2 separate regions of the Homo sapiens genome follow, and region 1 is linked to region 2. The links come from fine-mapping of genetic effects on gene expression. A gene starts in region 2. The other region holds a variant in brackets. All regions are shown on one strand. Distances are between the middles of the regions. Region 1 overlaps CELA2A (chymotrypsin like elastase 2A). Region 2 holds the start of EFHD2 (EF-hand domain family member D2).

Region 1 (4,385 bases), 55 kb after region 2:
GGCCTCAGTTTCCCCATCTGCAAATGAAAGGTGGGAAAAATGTCCTTGAGGGCAAATGACTCCTGTTTTCTCTGTGTTCATCTCATTCCCTCCATAAGAACTATAGAGTTTGTGTTATTATAACTTTTATTTTATATTGTAGTTTATAGTTAGTATAGTAACAATTATTATATGATCATAGTTCTTAGGTTATATACTTTAGGCCCTATTATAACTAACTGATTGTCCCAGGGGAGGAAAGATCCCCAAGTCCCATCTAGTGGCTCACGCAGCAGCCAGTTACTTGGGTCTATCCCCAGCATTATCCAAAGCCAGGCCTCTGGAGGTGACCCTCTCCCTGGGCCCCCTTTCTCCCAGCTCCTCCAGGACCTACCGCGTGGGGCTGGGCCGGCACAACCTCTACGTTGCGGAGTCCGGCTCGCTGGCAGTCAGTGTCTCTAAGATTGTGGTGCACAAGGACTGGAACTCCAACCAAATCTCCAAAGGGTTCGTTTCTGTCTGGGTGCACTTGGGGGTGAGGTTGTCAGGGAACAGATGGGGGTCTCACAGAGGCAAGGGTCTCAACCACACCACACCCCCTCTGCTTCTTCTACAGGGAGGGGGAAGGAGCTCTGGCCTCTTAGATGTGGAACCAGCTCCAAAGATGTCTGGGGTGGGGATGTGACCTGGGGAGGGTGAAGCAAAGACTGCCAGAGCGACCTGGGTTTGCTGCCAGTTACACCTGCAGGGCCCCTGTCCGCTGAGCATGTATCTACTTCATGCCAGGTCCTGGGGACACAGGGACAGTGCTGTCAACCCTGTGACTGTCCCTGGAGTAGGACACAATCTCTCCTGCCTTCCCCCTTTCAACAAGGCCCTCTGCATTTTCAAACATGCCCTGGGGCCCTGCCAGTCAGAGCAACCTGGGGTAACAGGGTACAGGGAAGATGACAAGGTCTCCAAGCCCTCCAAAGCCCACAGGGCAGGAAAAGTCAACCCGGTCCTCATGCTTCGCCTCCACACTCACCCAGGAACGACATTGCCCTGCTCAAACTGGCTAACCCCGTCTCCCTCACCGACAAGATCCAGCTGGCCTGCCTCCCTCCTGCCGGCACCATTCTACCCAACAACTACCCCTGCTACGTCACGGGCTGGGGAAGGCTGCAGAGTAAGTGGGAGCCAGGAGCCCCCAGGCCTGGGAGGGAAGGGAGGTGATTCACGTCACCCCTGTCTGGCCGGGGCCTCTCACCTGTCATCCCAGGGTGTGTGGCTGCCTTGGAGAGACGGGATGGCATAGGCTGACGCCTGCCTGGGATCAAATGTCAGCTCTCCCACTTAATGACTGTGACACCTTGGACACATTACTAGGTCTCTCCATGCAGCACTTTTTTCATCTGTAAAATGCAAATATTTGGCTGGGCGCAGTGGCTCATACCTGTAATCCCAGCACTTTGGGAGGCCCATCCCGCGGATCACTTGAGGTCAGGAGACCAGCCTGACCAACACGGAGAAACTCTGTCTCTACTAAAAATATTAAAAAAAAAAAAAATAGCAGGATGTGGCAGTGTGCACCTGTAGTCCCAGCTACTCAGGAGGCTGAGGCACGAGAATCACTTGAACCTGGGAGATGGAGGTTGCAGTGAGCCAAGATTTCGCTACTGCACTCCAGCCTGGGGGACAGAGCGAGACTCCGCCTCAAAAACAAAAGGCATAATAATAGCACCTACATCACAGAGTTGTCACGAGGATTAAAGGAGATAATCCATAGGAAGCCCAGAATGGGGTAGGTGCTGTGTTAGTTGTTGTCACTGTCCCTATGATGGAGAGAAAGTTACAGAGACCATGTGACATCTTCTGTGTGGCCCAAGGCTAGAGTTCAGAACAGCATTTTCCTCTGTGACCTGAGACCCCTGGAGCCCTCATCAGACCCTCCATGCCCCATAGCAAAAGCTGTCCCCTGTGCCATTAGGTCTTGCTGCTCAGAACCTGAATGAGGGCGGGTCTCCTTTGACATAGACTCCAAGGGTCAGAGATCCAATGACAGTAGCCACCAAGAGGAACAGAGTTCCCGCCCTTCCCTTGTGAAATCACCAGAGGTTTGGAAGATTCTAGGAAGGGATGAGT[A/G]ATAATGACCTTATGACCATAATGAGATTATGAGTGTTAATCACATTATGACATTTTTTCCTAATGACATAAACCCATAAGTATAATGACATGTTTTTCCAGGGGTACATCCACATACGTACCCTCAAATAATTCCCATTGCCCTCTTGACTGGCTTATCTGTAAACACAAGGACACATCAAATCCTGCGGTGAGCGGTGGTGGAAGAGGCATTTCATGCTTATTAAGATACAAGCACAACCTCCTGTTTGTTTCCCCAGACAACCCTGGGGCAGGCGCATTTCATCTGAGACAGTGAGAGTGGGGAGGCCTCCAAATGCTTGGCTTTTCGGCCCAGCTCTGTCAGTCACGGTGAAACCTTGGGCAAGCCACTTCCGAACCTCAGTTTCCTCATCTGTAAAATGGAAACACTGTTGGTGAAGACTAAAAGAGGTGAAAGGTGAAAATGCATCATACATTGCAAAATGTTATGCAAGTGTTAATTAATTACTTATTAGTGGTCTTAAGCCAGACACTTAACTTCCCTTTTTTTTTTTTTTTTTTTTTTTTTTGAGACAGAATCTTACTCTGTTACCCTGGCTGGAATGCAGTGGTGCAATCTCGGCTCACTGCAACCTCTGCCTCCCGAGCTCAAGCGATTCTCCTGCCTCAGCCTCCCAAGTAGCTGGCATTATAGGCGAGTGCCACCATGCCCGGGTAATTTTTGTATTTTAGTAGAGGTGGGGTTTCACCATGTTGGCCAGGCTGGTCTCAAACTCTTGACCTCAAGTGATCTGCCCACCTTGGCCTCCCTAAGCGCTGGGATTAGAGGGTGAGCACCGCGCCCGACCGACACTTAACTTCCCTAGGCTTCAATCGGAAGTGAAGAATTGTGTTAATCTCATCCTTGCCACTCATAGCTGTGGTAACAGTAATGGAGGTGATGGTGGCTGTGTCATTGGGGGCCATTATGAAAGCCCTCCCTTCACCACACCAGCATATTTTTCCCAAGGAGGGGGCTCTAACAGCCAGGAGGCTCACTTTCTTATTTCAGATAAGTGACAGAAAGCCATGGAGCTAGCTCAGCAAAAAAAGGGAAATTGTTATAAGGATTTAAAAGTTTTATCCCAAGGGCAGAGATACAGCCAGGCATCAGGAACAAGCTAGAATCAGGGGCTGGAAACCTGTAAGAAACACAGGAAACCCTCCCTCAGAATTTCTGTTCTTTGTGGGTCTACTTCATTCTCCACATAAAACAAAATGTCAGTCATTGCCAACAGCTTCCCAGAATTATGTCCTCTGAAACCGGAATCTCATAGACCCCATCTCAGAATCCCAGGGGAGGGAGCTCATTGGCTTAGCTTGAGTCAGGTGTTCACTGCTGAACCAATCAACCGTGAGGACACAGTATAGACAAACGTGGCTGTTCGCATGTTGCAATGGATGGAAGACAGGAACAGGGGAAACCTAAGACGGGTCCATCACTTCCTTTTTCTCAGGAGTCCCTGCATCCCTAATGGCTTCTCTCTGATCTCATTCAGCCAACGGGGCTGTTCCTGATGTCCTGCAGCAGGGCCGGTTGCTGGTTGTGGACTATGCCACCTGCTCCAGCTCTGCCTGGTGGGGCAGCAGCGTGAAAACCAGTATGATCTGTGCTGGGGGTGATGGCGTGATCTCCAGCTGCAACGTGAGTACCAAAATCAGGGGCTCCGCTCCATGACAAAATGTGGCTGGGGATAAGGCTATAGAGGTCCATCCCTCCATAGGTCCATCCTCCCACCTCCTGGCAGAATTACCCCGAAACATGTTCCAGATATATCTTTGGCCAGGCACGGTGGCTCACACCTGTAATCCCAGCACTTTGAGAGGCCAGGCGGGCAGACCACTTGAGGTCAGCAGTTCAAGACCAGCCTGGCCAACATGGTGAAACCTTGTGTCTACTAAAACTAAAAAAATTAGCCGGGCATGGTGGCAGGCGCCTGTACTCACAGCTACTCGGGAGGCTGAGGCAGGAGAATCACTTGAACCCATGAGGCGGAGGTTGCAGTGAGCTGAGATCACACCGCTGCAATCCAGCCTGGGTGACAGAGCGAAACTCAAAAAAAAAAACAAAAAAACTTGATCTTGGTTCTTTTTTGTTCTTGTTTTGAGATGTTTTGAGATTCTCCTTGTAGTATCCACCCATCTCACTGCTGGGAAGTCCTTCCCTGGGTCTCATCAAGGTCTCTCGTGACTGTCACTATGTATCCTTTCCTCTATGCTGGAAGGGAACCAAAGGAAAGTATTCCCTGGCTTAGGGCCTT
Region 2 (4,370 bases):
AAGTAATGATGACTGAGTCAGCCTGGCTCCCTTGCCACTGGAATATTGTCAGAATTGGCCGGCTCGCCCTTGCCTCTGTAAAAAGCCTTTGCCAAGGGTGTGATTTTTCCTGAAGATCATTCTTTCCACATGACCAAATGTTGTAGTGTGTCATCAGTCCAGACTGTTTCTTTCTGCCAGAATCTATGCTTGGGGCACAAAACTCGGGGTCATTCAAAAGTGATTTCCCCTAATCAAGAGGCAAGTGATATTTCCTGGAAGTTTCACCTCCATTCAGGGCTCATCAGCTTTCTCTGCTTTTCGTTCCATCACTGCTTCTTTGATTCCTGAAAAAGTGCTTTTCTTGGAGCCCAATGACCAATGACCAATGAAGAAAAAAACTTGGAGTAAAAGGCAGCCCCAGCGTCCATCTCTGGCCCAGGCCCAAGGCCTCTGAAATGGGGCCACAGTACTGGGCAGCTTGAGGTCTCACCCTGTGGTCACAGTCTCAGAGCTCTGCAAACCCCGAAAACCTGTGAGAAAAATCAACCCAAGAGGTGTTAAAAGGACTCACCCATCCGGGCAGCATTTCCCGAGCTCTGCCTGAGTTTAACAGTTGTAAGGCTCCGGCGTTCAGCAGCCCTCCTGCAAGATACTATAGGTAATGAGCAGGAATTCCACCACCCTCCCTCCTAAGAGCTGTGTCCACACAAAGCCAAATAGGTAACTGACCAGAGAGCTTACTACGCACAGGCAGTCCACATAATTCAAACCCCAACCCCAGTTTTTTCACATATATATGTAAGTTGTTTTGCAAGAAGGCAAAACCCTCACATTATCTCCTCACTGTGAAGTTTGCGCCCACGTCAAGCAGATGCAAACAATTTCATAAAACGGCAACCCAGTTTTATGCAGAACCATTGGAAATCATAAATTGGAGTAAATTGAGGCTCACTAGAGTCTTGAAAGTAATTAGCTGCTTTGTGAGGAAGACTAAGAATTCAACAAACTTAAGCATCTACAAACATCATCTGCAGACATCATCTTAAACATTTTAATCTGCATCCTGTCCCTAGTCCTTTGCATTCCTTAAATAACTATTTTACTTCTGTTGGGTCCTTCAGGGCTGCATACAGGAGATATGGAAGCCTGTCTTTTGCAAGTAGCTGGACCGAACTGCCCAAAACTAAGAGAAACTTAATTCTGAGATTTAAAACAAAAAAACCATTTTAGCTGAGCATCTTTATTGGACTCAAAAACAATTTCATAAACAAGTAAATGAGAACTTCACATTTTCTGAACCTTGAAGGTTTTTTCCTCAATTTCATTCTTTTAAAAATACCTTTTAAATTAATTCAGCAAGGTTCTTAAACACAGCAAATTGACAAATATCAACTGAGTGTCTGTTCTGTGCAAATCACTCTGTAACAGCTTGCTGGCTTTACATTCTCGAGGGCTCCCTGCCTCCAGAGCACCCTGGTTTTCGGCCCTGCACGCATCTTTTCTCTGCACCTTGGCTGGTTGGAGCAGTTTCAGTAGACAGGTCCTGATTGACCCAACATTTCAGAGAACATGCACAGAGCATAGTCCTCCTTCTAAATCAGGGATTCTCAAATTTCAGTGAGCAGAACTCCCCTGGGTGCTTGTTTACACGTAGATTCCTGGGTCCCACCCCAGAGATCAGTTTCGTCTGTCCAAATTGGAGCCTGAAAATCTGTATTATTAACCTAGGCCCCAGTGGTTCTGATGCTGGAGGTCCAGAGTTGTGCAGTTGTAAGGTGACAGCCCAGACCACAGAGATACTTATCTGAACTCTTTCCCCAGTCCTGTCCAGGAGCCGTTGGGGAGGACATCTCTCCTCTGGGGACCCCATCAAAATGGCGACATCATGATCTCCCTGTCAGTTTCCCTAAAGTACAGTCACAGGCGACAACACTGGCCCAGCAGCTATTGTGCCAAGTCATCCGTGTGATGGTGCGGGGCCTCGGGAGAGAGGACCACCAGCCCCTTCCCCTGTCCCTCACCCGCTGTCTCCAGGGGCCCTTTCAGGGGTGAAACCCAGTCCCATCTCCCTCGCAGCTGCTAGTCTGTCCTCTTCCAAGAGGCCATCGGCGCCCGCCACGGTTCACCCTAAACAGGGGTTTCTGCTCCCCAGGTCCGCCTCGGAACCCCTGCAACCCTCATTGAGAACGCCAGTGTTTAACAGCGAGTCGTTTCCATAGCAACCGACAGGGTGTCACAGACACAGGATTATGACTTCACGGCGTGGGGATTCCGGAGAAGGGGGTGGGGCGGCGCCCCCCCTCGCTTCCCCGCCCCCCGGCAAGCCCCGCTCCTCACCCAAGCCGCGGGGGAGGAGCCCTCTTCTTTCCCGCCCGGCCCCGGCCCCCAGCAGGACCCCTCCCGCTCAGCTGCTACAGTGGGCACGAAGAGGGGCATGGCTTTCGGCCGCGCTCCCCAGCCTCGCGGGGGGCAGACGACGGCGGGCGGGGCGCGCAGAGTACACTCGACCCCCGGCGGCCGGGAGCGATCACGCGCACGCCGCGCGGGCCCGGGGGCGGGGGCGGGGCGCGCGGTCCCCGCCAGGGCCCAAGTCCCACCTTCGGGGGCGGTGCCTGGCCCGGGGAGTGTCAGGAAGAGGAAGAGCGCGGCCGGCGGCGCTGCGCTGAGAGCAGGGGCCCGGCCAAGGCGAGTGCCGCGCGGGCCACCATGGCCACGGACGAGCTGGCCACCAAGCTGAGCCGGCGGCTGCAGATGGAGGGCGAGGGCGGCGGCGAGACCCCGGAGCAGCCCGGGCTGAACGGGGCAGCGGCGGCGGCGGCGGGGGCACCCGACGAGGCGGCCGAGGCGCTGGGCAGCGCGGACTGCGAGCTGAGCGCCAAGCTGCTGCGGCGCGCAGACCTCAACCAGGGCATCGGCGAGCCCCAGTCGCCCAGCCGCCGCGTCTTCAACCCCTACACCGAGTTCAAGGAGTTCTCCAGGAAGCAGATCAAGGACATGGAGAAGATGTTCAAGCAGTAAGTGCCCGCGCGACCCGGCCCCCCGCCCGCCCCGCGACCCGGTCTCGGGCCCCGAACCCCCCGATCCCCGGATCCCGCTCCGCCCCGGGAGCCTGCCGTCAGCCAAGCTTCCCCGAACCCAGACGCACCGGGGTTGGGGACCCGGCGGCCCCTTCCAGATCGAGACCCGGCATCTCACCGCGCACGTTAGTCTGGGGGACCCCCGGCCCCTGGCACGCGGCGGAGACTCGTATTTGTGCTGCCTCCGGTACACCATAGACGCGTCCACAGAGTGGGGGACCCCAGGCTTCCTTCCAGATAATCGCCAGGCCCCGCGAGCCCCACCCCCACCACCACACGTGTGGGTCCCGGGCCCTCCGCGCTGTTAGTGGGGCTTCTCCACCACCCCACACCGCACACACCGAGGCTGAGGACCCAGCGGCCTTCCTTCCCCGATCCCAGCTACTCGCGTTCCCCACCCCCACCCCAACACACGCTGGCCAAAGATACCCACCCCAGTGCCCCTCGACACCACATGCCAACCACATTCCCTCCCTTAAGGTCTTTTCGTTTCCTCTGCGATCTCAGGTCTCCCTCAAGGTGGGTTCTGGGCAGGGATCCCCCCAACTTCCTCTCCAGTTACTTAGCGTCTACCAGCAAACTGGGGGCAAAGACTTGCCCTTTCCATCCCCACCCACTCATTAGCCAGGACCCAAATCCTTCACTCACAAGTGGTCTCCTTAGGAAGGGACCCCTCGGCCCCTGTTGCCCCTCTGGTGTAAACCTCACTCCAGTCGTCCCTGTGGGCCGAGTCCCCTCCGGGTTTGGAAGGCCTCCCTCCCGCTCCTGCCCGCCCCACCCCCGTGCACCCAGCAGCTTGCAGTCACCGCTCCCCTGCTTCTGTCGCAAGGCCCCCCATCTCTCCTCCCCACTCCGTATATCCCCTTCCCTCCCCACAGGGACCCCCCATGTCCCACACCCACCCTGGTCAAAAGGGGCCCCTTCCTATGTGACTTGCCCTGTTACCCCCACCCCTACCCTTTATTCCATCAGATCCACACTGTGTGCCCTCACCAGGGTGGATGGGCACCCCCAGGCGTGTGGGCTCATCCCCCTGTCCCCCCACAAAAACAATCTTAATGTCTCTGTGGAGGGGCTAGGGAGAGAGGGCCCAGCTCCCTCCGGCCCATCCCTGGGTCCCACTCTGTTGGGTCTAAGATGCACAGCCACTCTCTCCCAGCCATGTGTGTGCCCAGGGGATGGGGAAGGTGCCAGTGCCCCTCCCTTTGGTAGCTTTCCCCACCTCCTGTTCCCTGTCCCCCTGCCCCTGGCTCCTGGAGAGGGAACAGCCTCGTTCCACGATCTGGGTGCTGGTCTGGAGTGGTTCTGGAA

Evidence for each region. PIP is the estimated chance that this variant, and not a neighbour inherited with it, causes the effect.
Region 1: its variant is the best candidate, but not a certain one, in a credible set for the expression of EFHD2 in lung (TOPMed, PIP 0.82).

What each region holds. Positions count from the first base shown.
Region 1 is chr1:15,462,376-15,466,760 of GRCh38, forward strand. CELA2A (chymotrypsin like elastase 2A) reads left to right here. Exons shown (of 8, transcript NM_033440.3): 4 at 358-486; 5 at 1,011-1,147; 6 at 3,624-3,769. It overlaps LOC105376767 (a long non-coding RNA gene), which reads right to left. Exons shown (of 3, transcript XR_002958256.2): 2 at 1,707-2,497; 3 at 1,140-1,373. Among named protein-coding and RNA genes, the nearest start is that of CELA2A, 7.8 kb to the left of the region's middle. The variant A/G (reference allele first, on the strand shown) is at 2,104.
Region 2 is chr1:15,407,284-15,411,653 of GRCh38, forward strand. It overlaps EFHD2 (EF-hand domain family member D2), which reads left to right and starts at 2,605. Exons shown (of 4, transcript NM_024329.6): 1 at 2,605-2,996. The coding sequence starts at 2,689. EFHD2-AS1 (EFHD2 antisense RNA 1) reads right to left here. Exons shown (of 4, transcript NR_183705.1): 2 at 554-624. RefSeq lists a silencer at 2,253-2,852 and an enhancer at 2,365-3,227.